Homo sapiens: one gene and its partner. The protein of the gene in region 2 interacts with the protein of the main gene of each other region in a pairwise test. Each region holds a gene or a part of one and is shown on either strand. Other genes may lie near its edges.

Region 1 (4,241 bases), on a different chromosome or scaffold from region 2:
TGCTTGGAACTCGGACTCCAGGTCGGGAAACATTCTTGGCCCCTCCTCTTCTTGGTTGCTGGAGCCCTCATCGGATTGTCTCCAAAGAGTGTAGTTGATGGTAGTCGAGAAGCTGGAGGCTCCCTGAGGACTGTGGGGAGGACTCGGTGAGTCGGCAGCAGGCACCTCCCCCAGGGTAACTTCCACTAGAGTAGAAGAGGAAGAAGCGGTCTGCTGCTCCTCAGTAGCAGGAGCCTGCGCACCCACCAGGCCCAGGGCCTCTCCTCGGGCCTCAAGGCCTTCTTCAGGCTTGCAGTGCTGACTCCTCTGCTCAAGAGGCATGATGACTCTGGTCAGGGCAGCAGGCAGGAGTGCGGGCAGGAGCTGGGCAATGAAGACCCACAGGCCTGGGGAGAGAAGGAGCGTGTGTGAGGCCTTAGGTGAGAACTGAACTGAACCTTGGAGGCTCTGACAAAGGCTTACTTACAGATCTTCTCCTTCAATGCTCCTCCAGTGCCTCGGGTCCTACTTGTCAGCCTGTCCCCCTCAGAACCTGAAGGAGGAAGTGGGAGGGCACCTCAGGGTACAGCCGGCCAGCACATGCTCAGGCTGCAGGACTGAGAATAGGGAGGGTGAGGCCAGGCCCTCTGGAGTCCCATTTGTTCTGGGCGGGTGGGGCCCTTGGTGTGCATTCCAGGCAAACCTTCAGTGTTGGCACTGTCTGCGTCCCCTCTGCTCTGTGACCTGAGGACACTGACTCAGACCAAGGCCTCACTGCCTGGTTCCTGGAGCTCCTGATTCCTGGGAGAGGAATGCACGGGCCTTCAGTGTGCAGACTGCAAGCACAGCCACGGATTCCCAGAAGTCTCAGCAGGGTTGGCCAGACTCCGTGAGGTCCCCACTCTACTTGGGTGGAGGGTCCCCTCTGTGCTCACTCAGGGCCCTCACCTTTCTCCTTGTAGGGCCTAATCCCACCCTTTTGCTGGCTTGAGAATCTCTCATGTCAAGAACTCACATCCCTGATATGGTACAGAAGGAGATGAGGGGACCCACATCTGGCCATACGTGACCAGGTCCTCCCGCGAAGGACAACGAGAGATGTCCAAATTCATTGGAGTCCAGGTGTCCTGGGTGACGAGTCCGCTTGGTCCTCACGTCCACTCCTGGCAGGGCCTGAGACCCTCCCTCTACTGACCTGACTCCAGCCCCTTCAGACCAAGGCCTCCCCTTCCCTGACATCAAAGATCCCAGGATAATGGAGGGACTTCAGCTGACAGCCCTGCCCAGGGTCTCTGAAGTAACCGCAGGGGCAGGGCAGATTTCTATGGGGCCCCCTGTCTGCATTCTGGCCCAGGAGTACCCTCAATCCTACCTCAGGCTCTCCACCTGGATGCTTGGCAGATCCTAGAACCACTGCATCTGTCGACCAGATGGGGGCCCCTGTGTTGACCTGAGTCACCTTCTGAAAACAAGGTCATCAACTCCCTGAGATCTGGAAACAGAAGTGAGGAGGGGCCACATCCTGTTACCCCCACGTGCGTTGTCCAGGGCTGACCCCTTTGGTTCTAGGGTGAACGTTATGATGGCCTCCTGTGGGTTACTCATCTTTACTCCTGCCAGGGACTGCCCTTTCTCAACCCCCAACCCCCTGAAATGAGCAGACAGCTCCTCTTTACACCAACACCTTATCTCCCTGAGGGTTCCCCAACCTCCTGCCTGTGGTACAAATGAGATTGTCACTTAGGGCCATCCCTGATCAGGTTCCCCCAGAGCTAAGAACAAGGGACGGCCAGACTCTGTGGCATCCCTTCTTTCTGGGCCGGGGGTATCCCCAGTCCTCATGAAGGGGGCACACCTTGGGTCCGGCAGATCCTGGGATTCCTCCCTCTGCTGACCTGAAGTCCCAGCCCTCAGACCACAGCCCTCAACTCTCTGTCACCCTGAAGGTGCAATGAGCACGGGGCACATTCGGCCACTGTGCCCAGGATCCCCCAGCCCAAGGTTGCCACTGATCTGGACTCCAAGGTCCCCTCAGTCCTCCCTCTTCTTCCTCCCCTTGACTCCTCGCAGGGCTGGGCCCCAACCCCCTGCTGAAGTGGGTCTGCATCCCTAGGATTCCCGCGGCTGAATGAAAAGGTGGCTCAGTTTGAGACAGGGGTACAGTGGGCCCCCTGTCCTGGCATGCTGGGTCCCCTAAGGACTCCACTGTCTTCCAGGAGGGCCTGGGCCCTTCCTCTGCATCCCAAAGGCCATACTCACGAGACCCAACCCCTTCCCTCCCTTAGCCGTACATGTGAACGTCAGGATCCGCGTGCTTGGCCGCCATTCCCGGAGCTTCCGTGGGTTGATTGCAGGGGCAAAGCCCGGATTCTGCCAGGATGGTGGTGGGGGAGGAGATGGGAATGGGGTTTGGGGGTGGGGTTGGTGTTTGAGGGATGGGGGTGGGGTTGGTGTTGGGGGATGGGATTGGTAGTGAGGGTAGGGGGTGGGTTGCCCTCAGTCCCCTCTTGGGGTCCTGACCTTGATTCCTGGCTGAGTCTGGGCCCTGAGCACTTCTAACCAGCCCTGCCCTGGTCACACAAAGCTCTTACGCCAGAGTTCCCTGCGGTTAAAGCGGCGGGGGGTGGCGGGGTGAGGTGGTGGCGACTCAGCCTGAGAAGTCTTCCCCTGCAGGGTGGTCCAGGCCCGGCAGCAGAGGCAGCGCTGGATTATTGGGGGCCCTCTGTCTGGGGTGAGGCCCGCCTCAGTCCTCCCTCGGCGTCTTACCTTGCCTCCTCACGGAGCCTGCGCCTGCTTCCCTCCGCCGACGTCAGGCCGTTGCTCAGGGCGAGAATCTCGCTGTCCTCTGACCTCCAATGCGCAAGTCAGTGGCGTCACATCCGGGCCCGTGACTTCCCTGGGTTCACGGCAAGGGTGGAACCGGATTCTGCCCGGATGGGGATCTGGATGGGGGGGTGGGGGTAAGCATGAAGATGGTGTTGGTGTAGGGGTAGGGATTGGGACGGGGATCCTGAGGCTGTAGATCCTGGTGGGGTCGGGGGAGTTGGGGGTGGGAGGGGCCTTTGGTCATCCCTCAAGGTCCTGACTTGGATGCCAGACTGAGCCTGGACCGCCATCCTCTGCCGATTGTGTTTGCTCCCCTCAGACCAAGTCTCTGACTCTGAGTCGGCCCGAAGTGGCATTGGGGGGAGGGGTGTGCTCGGGGTGAGATCATTGCCAGTGTGTACCAGGGCTGACAAGAGGGGCTGAGCTGGATTCTGTGGTCCCACTATGTGGGTGAGGGTGGATCCTCAGTCCTCACTCAGGAGGGTCCTCTTCCTCACTCCTGGCTGTTTGATGAAGGAATGGGTGGGAGATGCTCTGTTTCTGTCACCTCTGAGCATCTGCGCATCTGCGCATCTGCACCCCTTGTAGAGAATGGCTGCGGGTGCCAGGCCAGGTGCTCCCTGCAGGGCAGGAGCTCCCGCGATGATAGTGACCTCTGGGAGAAGACGCACACCTTCCCACGGGGGCTCCTCCCCAGCCAGAGCTACACTTGGCAAACCTTTGGTCCTAAATGATTTATTCTCTGAATTGAAGAAATACGGTTTACATATCTTCTAAGTATATATGTAGGTAGCAATATATATATTTATTTCTATGAACTAACACCTACCCTTAGTATGCATGATTCACTCTGATATCCTAGTCTACTTCCATTCCAGTCTTTGTGTTCTGTTGAAAGAATTTTTTTAAAAAACATAATTCCTCTCCCACTCTGTTGGTTTCAGGTTGTTATTAGCAGAACTCTGGAGCCATGCTGCCTTAACAAACCCAATTTTCCTGGTGGACACTGCTATTACCTAGGGCTCTTGGCATCGTGTTTTCAGGGGCTGCCTCAGATTGTGCAATGAAGTGAAGTGGAAAATTCAAAACTTTTATTCTACCCATTCTTTCATCTGCCGTCTAGGCAGGCTACAAACCTCCCCAACATCTCTGCCGCTAACCCCCTCCAACAGACACTGCAAGTGTCACACACAAGTACCAGCTCAACACAGTCTCCAGTCTCACTCTGGGCTTTCCCTGTTTTGTTGTGTAGATTTTCTTGCTGATACTGGTGTTTTACTTTCTGTTTCCATTCTATAAATTTACAGGGTTGATTTGGGAAGCAGAGCACAGCAGCCCAAATTTGCTTGTAATGTCGGCGGCTACAGGTAAGGCACTAAATTGTAAATAATTTAAGCTGAGTTTACATTTTTACACTGTTGTGTTCCCCGTGAATG
Region 2 (4,664 bases):
GAACACTAAGACATAAGATTCTGAGTAACTTGTTCAAAGTCACACTGCTATATCCCACAGCTTCTCACTACTTAAGGCCCAGCCTCATCTAGATGAATCACCTACCCTGGGTTCCCTTAACTTAAGACACATTTAGAGAAAGCTGGCTTTTCCTTGACTGTTCATTCACATCATTGTCATTCCTACACTCCATGTCCCACATTCCCATAAGGGATGGTCAAATATCCCCTTCTGAATGATACCTTTCCAAGTCCCACTTATCAGAATTATTCTGTCCTCTTATGTAGTGTTGTATATTTACTGTGTGATTTTTTAGACCAATGTGTACTATTTACAGGCAATTCTTGCTGCTTGTGGTGGTCATATTCCATAAAGTCACCACGGACACTGAATTAGTGAATATTGAACCACTGCTCCTAGGAGAAATGTTGGGTTAAGTTTCTGCTAGCCTCTTGTCACAACATTTGTGTCAATGGATCAATACATAACTTTGTTTCATGTGTGTTTCTGATTAAAGACAACTTATTTAATATGTATTGTTGATTAACTCTGAAGTCATGGTCAAGAGTACTATAACATGTCTTAATGAAGCTTCTCTAACACACTTTTTCTCTATAAGGCACATCACATCCTTCATGCTTAGGAATACTAGAGAGCATGACAGCATATACGTGTGGGCCATTCTAAACCATGAAATCACCAACAAATAGCACAAAAATGCAGGAAACATGGCACTAAATAGATCACAAAAAGAACACTAGGAATGTGTATATGTCAGGAAACAACTTTGCTGCTCTGCTCATATGTAAGGATGTATCACAAAGCACCACAAGTATTGATTTGGGGATGACAAATGCATTTTAGTCAGTAGGGAAATTCACATATGCAGAATTTGTGATGATGAGGATAGACTGTACATGTCTCTTTTACTATATTGTGAGTTATTTACTAGCAAGAACCAGTTTTCGTTTTCTCACAGCATATAGCAGAATGCCTTGCAAAAAGAAAGCATCAAAATTAGATTACAAAGAACTGAAAGTACCATGCTAATTATAAACTAAATGAAACTATTAAACATGCCCCCTCTTCTAATAGACTAAAATAATTTATAAAATACCTCTGAGCCATGACTTGACTTGAGCTAAATGTTTTCTAAAGCGTTTTTTTGTTTTTTTCTTTTCTTTTTGAGACAGAATCCCACTCTGTTGCCCAGACTGGAATGCAGTGGCCCAATCTCGGCTCACTGCAACCTCTGCCTCCTGGGTTCAAGTGATTCTCCTGCCTCAGCCTCCAAAATAGCTGTGATTACAGGCGCGTGCCACCATGCCCAGCTAATTTTTGTGCTTTTAGTAGAGACAGGGTTTCGCCATTTTGGCCAGGCTGGTCTCAAACTCCTGATCTCAGGTGATCTGCCCGCCTTGGCCTCCCAAAGTGCTGGGATTACAGGCATGAGTCACCGCACCCGGCCTGTTTTTGCTTTTTTCACTTAATATTGAGAACAACTTAGGAAGTCACAAGGTAGGTTTCATTATCTATATTTTACAGGCAGGTATACTAAAAGAGGTTAAGGAACTTATTTTTTAGAGAGAGATTTTAGAGTAATAAGAAGCATTTTAGAGATCATCTAGTTCAACTTTGTCATTGTACAGATGAAGAAAAGGAAGCATAGAAAAGTTAAATAACTTGTTCAAGGTTACCACCAATGGAATATTAGAGCAGGCAGGAACACCAAGTCTTTTCCCCCTAAATTCTCATATTTCTAAGTACCCTAAGCATCTTTCACTTTACCACATTACTTATTTTCACTGACTTAACGCATCCTCAGTGATAGAATGAATACATTCTGGTAAGAAAGCAACTCAGAATGCCAGAATGATTTGACCTAAATATTCCTCTAAAAGTCCACTTGGACAACAAATAATATGTTATTCAACTAAGGTAATGTCAGTTCTTTTTAAAATATCATAGCATTTAATCTGCTGTTAACACATTTAACACAGATCATCAAACCATCTATTACATCTCTGTGAATTCTATCATTCTCCTATTGAGTAAATGAGACTTTAAAAAAATGATTGAGCTTTCATTATTTTAAAGAAAAAATTTCATAGCTTTAATCTATCACTTTAGATATCATTAAGATTGTCCTTTAGGTTCAAGGCAGAATTATACCATACTGCATTTAGAAAATACATTTATTTTGTTGATACCAATCAACTTTACAGGTGACACAGTTAAGGACTTGTGGATTATAGTATACAACGTTAAGTAGATAGATATACATTCCTGACAAGACTAAAAGTTCTGTAATGGCAAGGACATTGCCAGTCTATCACCAATCTTAATATAGTAGAATAAATAAAATTATTTAATTAAATATAATTATATATTGATATATAATTTATCATATAAAAATAAATTATTAAAAATTGTTTTAAAATTAAAGTTGTTTTACTTGCTGTTTTACTGGCAGCAAATTTTAAAATTGCTTTAAAAAACAAATATTTTTTGTTCTAAAACTGTTTTACTGGCAGCAAGTAAAACAGTTTGTGCAGAGACAACTTAAAAGAAATTAGAGTAGTTGGGCATGTAAGAAACACATTAAAAGAATAAAAATACAAAAAAATTAGCTACTTGGGAGGCTGAGGCAGGAGACTAGCTTGAACCTGGGAGGTGGAGGTTGCGGTGAGCCGAGATCATGCCATTGCACTCCAGCCTGGGCAACAAGAGCAAAACACCATCTCATAAAAAAAAAAAGAGAGAGAGAGAATATACAATATATACTCTTTTTTTTTACCAAGAGTAATCAGAACATTGTCTTACCTATTATTGTATGAATTATTTATTAGGTTGCCTGAATTACTTTCATAAAATTATTTGATTTTTTACTACTATTTTATTTTTTCTAATTTCTTACAGAGAAAATGGTTCTGCAAAACAATTTTTTCCATGTAAAATTAAGAATTTCAAGTTAATCTTAAAAAAATCAGAGATAAAATTAAATTTAATTCACAATCCACTTTGTATTTGGAAGAAAATGATGACTGTTTTAAATTTTTTTATGACGAAGAATCTTGAAGCTAAGTGCTGCCACAGCATTCTCATAACAATGTTCTATTTATTTAAATGTATTGCAATATTTTACAAATAAAAATGGTGCAGTTTGTTTTATTTTTTAAGGCAAAATTATGTTAGCTACATTTTCCTTCATTAACATCACTATTTACCCATCGTGGCAACTTCCTGAGTCTACTTTAATATGTTCAATTACACTTAATTTTAGTATGCTTACATTTAATATATTCTATTTTAATAAACTGGTGACCATTATCTGGCTTCCTTCAAAGTACTCCAGTTACATTACATCTGGGAACCACTGAACAAAATCCTCAGTCTCACATATAAATGGCATTTAGAAATACGTATGTTTTTGGCAGACAGGAGCATTCCAACATAGCCCTTCAAAGAAAATGACAAGAATTTTAAAAACCACTTCACTTTATTTGAGTACTAGGTAGTTCAACTCTCATTCTACCAAGATAAATATTATGAGAAAAAGATCAAAAGGACTGTATTTTATTAAAAAAAACTTTGGAATGCAATTTCTTGGGCAATTCCTTAATATACTTAAGTTAAAAGAAATTTCCAGTCATTTTCATCTCTTTACAAGATTGTTTAAGAATGACTTCATCCCAGGTGCTGACCTTTAAAAAAAAATTCAATGTCAATTAACAGAAGTCCAAACGTCTTGAATTTTTTTAAATGAAAAAAATATACATACATGCTGGCAAAGATTATTTTGTTTTGACTTGTACCTGGGAATTCAGCCTGTTCAACTGGGATTGGGAAGTTTCATTAATTTGCTGTAGCTCCTCTTTCTCTTGATTAAGTCTCTCTCGATCCGATCGTTCCTTTTTGAAGTCTTCTTCGTATATTTGCACCTAAGAAATATTAGCTTGCTGTTACTGTAAGCTTCCTTTTCACTTAAGCCATTTAAATGACTTTATTTTAAATGACTGCTGCCTACTCCATTATTGTAAAGAACCCTCCCAACTAGTGTTCAGTGTCACTGTTTTGGAGCAAGTCATCCATCCCTAACACAAGGGCTTTGATGTATGAATACTGCTTGAACTTCTAAAAGACAGTTTACTGACAATAGATGTTAAGTGATGCCACTAAATACTGACATGCCCAAGTTTCCAGACATAAATTATAAGTTGAATGCAAAAAAGAAATGAAACCCTTACATATGTGGAAAAGCAAAGCATGATTGTTAAAAGGTATTCACAAATTTTCCTTTTATAAGTTATTTTGGATGTATCTCATAAATAATAGTAATATTTGAGTGGAACACCTCTTGAGAGGCACTCCAAATATTTGAGAAAAGTGACTAAACTAAAAACAAAAACAGGTTTAATTATTGTTACTGTTTTCAACTGACTTACTGTTGACTGAAGGTTAGCAGACTGGTATATAAAGCTATGAAAACAAATGAAAGGTAAGGAATGAAGTAAAAACATTCCTCTAAGATTCTGATTTAAATTACTACTTATATTGGAACCTATAGCTAGATTTTTATCTATTAAAACTAATGCACATTACACTTTCATCACTAACAGCCCAACAAATTTTAACTAAAGGTTTATCAATTTTATTGTTCTAAG

What was found.
Region 1: the proteins of TNIP3 (region 2) and MAGEA2 interact in binary tests that used the Homo sapiens proteins (3 or more experiments, as listed by UniProt).

Annotation. Positions count from the first base shown.
Region 1 is NC_000023.11:152,751,043-152,755,283, forward strand, and holds the start of MAGEA2 (melanoma-associated antigen 2), read right to left. Parts: upstream 2,801-4,241; 5' UTR 2,746-2,800; exon of another isoform or gene 2,500-2,745; intron 2,350-2,499; 5' UTR 2,271-2,349; intron 1,472-2,270; 5' UTR 1,352-1,471; intron 781-1,351; exon of another isoform or gene 683-780; intron 533-682; 5' UTR 467-532; intron 387-466; 5' UTR 322-386; coding exon 1-321. UniProt on the Homo sapiens protein: Reduces p53/TP53 transactivation function through recruitment of HDAC3 to p53/TP53 transcription sites. Also represses p73/TP73 activity. Proposed to enhance ubiquitin ligase activity of RING-type zinc finger-containing E3 ubiquitin-protein ligases.
Region 2 is NC_000004.12:121,143,234-121,147,897, forward strand, and holds part of TNIP3 (TNFAIP3-interacting protein 3), read right to left. Parts: intron 3,942-4,664; coding exon 3,816-3,941; intron 1-3,815. UniProt on the Homo sapiens protein: Binds to zinc finger protein TNFAIP3 and inhibits NF-kappa-B activation induced by tumor necrosis factor, Toll-like receptor 4 (TLR4), interleukin-1 and 12-O-tetradecanoylphorbol-13-acetate.